Linked DNA regions of Homo sapiens: region 1 is linked to region 2. The links come from fine-mapping of genetic effects on gene expression. A gene starts in region 2. The other region holds a variant in brackets. All regions are shown on one strand. Distances are between the middles of the regions. Region 1 overlaps MAD2L1-DT (MAD2L1 divergent transcript). Region 2 holds the start of NDNF (neuron derived neurotrophic factor).

What was found. PIP is the estimated chance that this variant, and not a neighbour inherited with it, causes the effect. A credible set is the group of variants that fine-mapping cannot tell apart.
Region 1: its variant is the best candidate, but not a certain one, in a credible set for the expression of NDNF in tibial artery (GTEx, PIP 0.56).

What each region holds. Positions count from the first base shown.
Region 1 is chr4:120,074,441-120,077,352 of GRCh38, reverse strand. The region is part of intron 1 of MAD2L1-DT (MAD2L1 divergent transcript); the gene reads right to left. Among named protein-coding and RNA genes, the nearest start is that of MAD2L1-DT, 8.9 kb to the right of the region's middle. The variant G/A (reference allele first, on the strand shown) is at 1,671.
Region 2 is chr4:121,070,848-121,073,759 of GRCh38, reverse strand. It overlaps NDNF (neuron derived neurotrophic factor), which reads left to right and starts at 1,225. Exons shown (of 4, transcript NM_024574.4): 1 at 1,225-1,767. It overlaps NDNF-AS1 (NDNF antisense RNA 1), which reads right to left and starts at 2,398. Exons shown (of 3, transcript NR_187407.1): 1 at 2,180-2,398; 2 at 1-10.

The sequences.
Region 1 (2,912 bases), 1.0 Mb after region 2:
AAGAAGTTTCTCTGGAACATGCTAGGCTAACATCTTTTTTTGACATATCTGCATGTGATCTCTGCTGTTGGTAGATTGCTTGGAGATTCCTGCTTCTTTTAGACAAGACCATGACACTCCCTCATTATGCAACCAGTAATAAAGTTTTTTTTTTTTATGTGATCTAAGTGGACTTTTATGACAGGATTTGTTGAAACCCCTAAGATGGCTTTTATTCTGTGCTTTGGGCAGTGGTAAATAGATGGGGTTCAAGAGTCTGGAGCACTCCTTCCCAATAAGAATGTATTTTCCTTACAGGATTGTTCTGCAAAGTCCATTATAAAGAATGATAGCTCACGCCGGGCATGGCGGCTCACACTTGTAATCCCAGCACTTTGGGAGGTCAAGGTGGGTGAATCACTTGAGGCCAGGAGTGCAAGACCATCGAAACCTTGTCTCCACTAAAAAATACAACAATTAGCTGGGTGTGATGGTGCATGCATGTAATCCCAGCTACACAGGAGGCTGAGGAATAAGGATCACTTGAACCTGAGAGGCGATGATTGCAGTGAGCTGAGATGGTGCCACCACGCTCCAGCCTGGGTGAAAGAGCAAGACTCTGTCTCAGAAAAAAAAAAAAAAAAAAAAGAATGATACTTCAAATTTCCACATAGGCATGCAGGTCAGCCATCCTAACTAGGTCTATTCCATATTTACCTAGAAGAGAGGACAAGCACGGAACACTACTATTCCCAACTCAGGTGCCTCATCCCCTAATCAATAAGGTTTCTGCAAACATCCTCAAAATCAGTGGCTTCCAAAGTGGAATATATGCAAAAAACAATCCTTTTGGGAGTATAGGAAGGAATGTTACAACTTCTATTTAATTTATGTTTTAACCTAGGAAAATAAGCTTTACTAAAAAAATGGATTTCAAAAAATGGACTGACATTGCACACTCACACAGTCTCCATGTCAGAAGGTCACGTTCTTACTCATATGTGGAAGTTAAAAAAGTTGATCCCACAGAAGTAAAAAGTACAACAGAGAATACTAGAGGCTGGGAAGGGTAGGCGGAAAGAGAGGACAGAGAGATTTGTTAAAGGAAACAAAATTACAGCTAGATAAGAGTAAGTTCTAGTGTTCTACAGCACTTGTAGGATGACTACATCCTACAAGTTAATAATAGTTTAAAATAGCTAGAATGGGGATATTGAATGTTTGAAACACAAAGAAATTATAAATGTTTAAGATGATAGATAGGCTGATTACCCTGATCTGATCACTATACATTGTATAGACCACAACATCACTATGCACCCTGTAAATATGTACAATTATTATTTGTCAGTTTTAAAAATTTAGAAAAAAAAGGGAGTCATAGGCCATGATTGGTACCCTGAGGAAATGCAAGTCAGCTGTGCCAGATTTACTGGCTCTTTCTCTTTGCAGTACTGTGCTAACAAGAACTTCAGAAAAATTAACATTCTTCCATTCCGTTTTTCAAAAGACACTCATGTTATGGAAGGAGCACGTTTGAATAAACTTTTTTTTTTTTTTGAGATGGAGTCTCGCTCTGTCACCCAGGTTGGAATGCAGTGGCACGATCTCAGCTCACTGCAAGCTCCAGCTCCCGGGTTCATGCCATTCTCCTGCCTCAGCCTCCTGAGTAGCTGGGACTACAGGTGCCC[G/A]CCACCACACCCGGCTAATTTTTTGTATTTTTTTTTTTTTTACAGGGTTTCACTGTGTTAGCCAGGATGGTCTCAATCTCCTGACCTCGTCATCCGCCCTCCTCAGCCTCCCAAAGTGCTGGGATTACAGGCATGAGCCACCGCACCTGGCCTGGATAAACTATTTTTTAAAAAAGTCTCATCTGTACAATTGAAAAGTTTGGAAACAGAGTTCTCTAAACTATAATTTTTCTAAATTACAAATTAGTTCCAAAACTAACTAAAAGGTCAAACAATGCATTTAATTAGTTCCCAAACTAATAGGAAGGTATTGTTTTGATATTTTTTTAAAAAAAAAAGGGTTAAAAAACTGCTTAAACCATTGTTTTTGAACACATTCATTAAAATTATTAAAATATCATATGTCACTTTTTAACCAGCTTGTAAGAACACCTAATTGGTACCATTAAATTGAAATTTAATAATCCCTTTTCAGCAAAAACTTTGCATAATTGCTAATACAGGTAAATAAAAAGAATAAGAAGTCAACAATGTACTTTCTTCCATTTGGACCTTCATATCTTTGTGGTGTATCTCTTTTAGCTCTGCTGGCCAAAAAACACAAACCCCCCAAAACAAACAAAAAAACTATTAAAATAAGCTGAATTATTAGACTTGTAAACCACTCTTTCAAAAATAATTAAACCATGATTTTTAAAAGCAATGAAACATATTCACTGCAAAAATCTTAATATGGTTATTAATATATTTAGTGAAAGTAAAAATAATTTATTTTCTAATAATATAAACAGAATTATTTTAAAAGTATTTCTCATCTTTCTTAATTTCGAACAACTGGTATGATTTAAACACATATGCTATACCTAACACTGTGGAAAATGTTTATAATTTAGAGATAAATAACCAACATTTACATAAGTATATTCATAACTTTTTCTGTTACTGATAGTACACACTATTTTGGAAAACAAGACCTTTGAGAAAGAGAAGAGAAAGGTGCATTCACATTTCCAGATTGCTTCAAATAATCTCCCTACAAGTTCCAGTCTCCCAGGAGGTACAGGCAAGTGTACTTGGGGCATAAGTAGAACTATGACCTGCCTTTCCCACACTCCTGATCTTTTTCCTAAGTCAGGCAGGCAAGCATTGTAAGTGTGGAATGCTACACCTACAATGTCCCGAAGATGTTCATCTTCTATGTTATGAGTACTTTTGGCTGCTTTTGGGAGTTAAGTATTATAA
Region 2 (2,912 bases):
ATTGTCTCATCTGCAAAAAATATGCTTGCACAGTGATCTGAAATGTCCTTTTCAGTGTTTAAAAATTTTACAAAACTATTTTATGTCGTGTAAACGGTTTTATAAATCCATTTCCTGCAGTGTTTTCATCTAGGAACCACAAAACTTTAGGAGCTGCATTGGTCCACCCTCTGTGACCAACTGTTTAGCAAAAAAGATCATAGTTCTTAATATGACCGGGATAAGGCTGATTTTCATCCTACCTACCTTAATTTCATTGTGGCAATAACAGAACTAGTGTTTTCAATACTGACACTATATCTTAATAAATAATTATATATTATTAGAACTTATATAAAACCAGGTTTGCTGGAAATCAGGTTCTCAGTTGCAAAAATGAGATCACCAAATCATTCGGTACTTTTTTTTTCTTGGTTTTCCTAAGCCCAGGCCAGGTTGCTAATTAGGTAACTTTTTATCATAATTACCTAGTCAGCCTTAATGGCTTCACACACTCTGCTCCGTTTCACTGGTCCTGTAGGGCCGCTTTTTCAATTGTTAAAACAGCTGCTGAGTTTCAAATCGGAGGAGGCTCGGTCTGCGCCGAGGGGGAAGCGCTCCCTGAGTGAAGGCTGTGATAGGCAGGCGTTCGGGTGAAAAGTGGGACATGAATGCACAGTTTGCACACTCTGCTTTCCGCCTCCAACCACCAACCTTCTGGATTTAACACGTCCCCCTCCCTGCCCCCAGATCAACCCCAGAGTTTCCCTCTATTGTGCACCCCGGTCTGCTTGACAGTGTGATGGTCCCGCGTGCGCGTCTCCTGGGTTTTGCAGCTTTGTCGGGGGCTCGGTGGGCCTCCTTCATTCTCCCCGAGTGGCGCTAAGGTTAGGACAGCAGCGTGTCCCTCGCGATGCCGCCCGCGAGGGTCCTGTTTGGGGAGCGCTGGGTCGCTGAGCAGGGTGGTGTGTGTGTGAGAGAAAGAGAGGGAGGGAGGGCTACAGGGAGAGAGAAAAGGAGGGAGAGGGTGTCTGTGTGTGAGTGTGTGTATGTGTATGAGTGTGTGTGTGTGTGTGTGTGTGTGCGTGCGCGCTGGCGCGCAGCGGGAGGGAGAGAAGGAGGGACGGAGGGGGAGGCAACGGGCAGAGGAGGGAGGGGGCGGGCGGGCAGCGGTGAGGCGGGAGGGGTTAGGGCTGGGAGGGGAAGAGACTCCGGGCTTCAGCAGTGACACTCGGGAGCGAACACACACTCCCCACTTCCAGCCGCGAGAGAGTGGAGCTAACTGAGCAGCGCACCCGCCACGGCCGCTGCCGCCCCGTGCGCCCGGCTCTCCCAGCACCCCGCGCGGCGCTCCAGCCAGGCGCCTGTGCGACTAGCGGCGGCCGGCGAAGCCCGCGCCAGCCCCGCGGGTCGCTGCGGCATCCTCCCGCCGCCCAGCCCCCGCACGCTCCCTGCAGTTTAAAAGGACCTCCCGCCGCTTCTCGGCGCTGCCCCGGGATTCCCCAGCCCCGCGCGGCTCCCTACTCCACTTCGCAGCAACTTCGGCGACCGCGCGCCGCCCGCCCTCGCCCGCCTTTGAAGTTTGCTGTGCCGACCGCAAAGTTGGGACACTTCAGCGGATTGAATTTTTCTCTTTTATCTGCCTCCGTCCCCGCCCTCCAGGCTTCTCGTTCCTGGATATTGGTGCTTAGCATCTTGGCAGGGTCCGGGGACGTGGACTATTTCGCACACCACACCACGGGGAGGGATTTTTTTCTATTTTCCCTACGAAAAACAGATCTTTTTAAGGTAAGTGGGGAGAGGAAAGCAATGCCCCAGAGACCCGACGCCTTAGCCCGCCACCCTGAGACCTAGCACAAGGAGCGTTCACGCCCGAAGGGTCATCCGAGATGGGGGCTCGAGGCACGCGCCCCCAAATCTTCAAGGCCCAAGAAGCTTCTCAAGGGCGCCCTATCCGTAGGAGCTGAGGGCATGAGGGGCAGGAGCAGGTTTCCCTCGTTTTTTTTTTTTTATTGTTGTTGTTGTTTGTTTGTTTGTTTGTTTTTAATTTAGCTGCTTTCGAAGCTGGGCGGCCCGGAGAGATGTGAGGAGGTGGACAGACAGCGCAAGGGCGGGGAAGACCTGGGACCCGGGAGCTCGGGGTGCAGTGGGGTCTGGGGAGCCGCGGAGCCTTTATCCCGGACTTAGCCTGGACACTTACTTTGCCCGCCTGCCAAGAGGGCTGTTGCCTCCCTTTCCAGGTTCATGCCCTCCGCCCGCCGCTAGGGAAAGTCTGCGGGACTGGGGTTTTGCAGAGGGCGTCTGCGTGTAGGGCGAAAAGCTAGAGGTCCAGGCAGCGCACGAGTTCTTGGTGGGCGTCTGGGAGCTGCGCAGCCGGGGCCGGGAGTTCGGTTGGCCCGACCCCCAACCGCTCTGGCTCCTCATTTGTCCTCTGCGTGGTAGGCGAGCATCGTTATAGAAACTTCCTTGGGCTGAGCGAGGTGGCCTGGGACCGGCTCATACTTTCTTCCGGAGAGCAGAGCGGCCACCGAGGTGACGCCCCCTACGGCCCCAGCCAGGAGACTCGGCTTCGTGCCCTCGTCCTGTCTGTGCGTGAGTTGGGGTTCGCTCTCACCCGCGCTACCTTTCTAACTGAGCGGAGTCGCCGCGGCCCCGATAACCTAGGAGTCCGAACGAGTGATTGCAGGTCCCAGCTGTTTTCTTGGAGGCACTTTGCAAACTGCTGAATTTGGAGTGCGGTTTCGTTGCATTGTGCGCTCTCGGTTCACCTTTCTGCCCGCACCCTATCCCAGGCCCAGGCGTGAGAGCTCCCGGCAGTTCCCCGGACCCGCCCCGCATCAGCTCCTCGGAGTTTGCCGCGGGCACCTCTACGCTGTCTCTGAGCTGTCCCTCCGGCCAAGTTGCGGTTCCCCTCCTGGCCCCCTTCGGGGCGC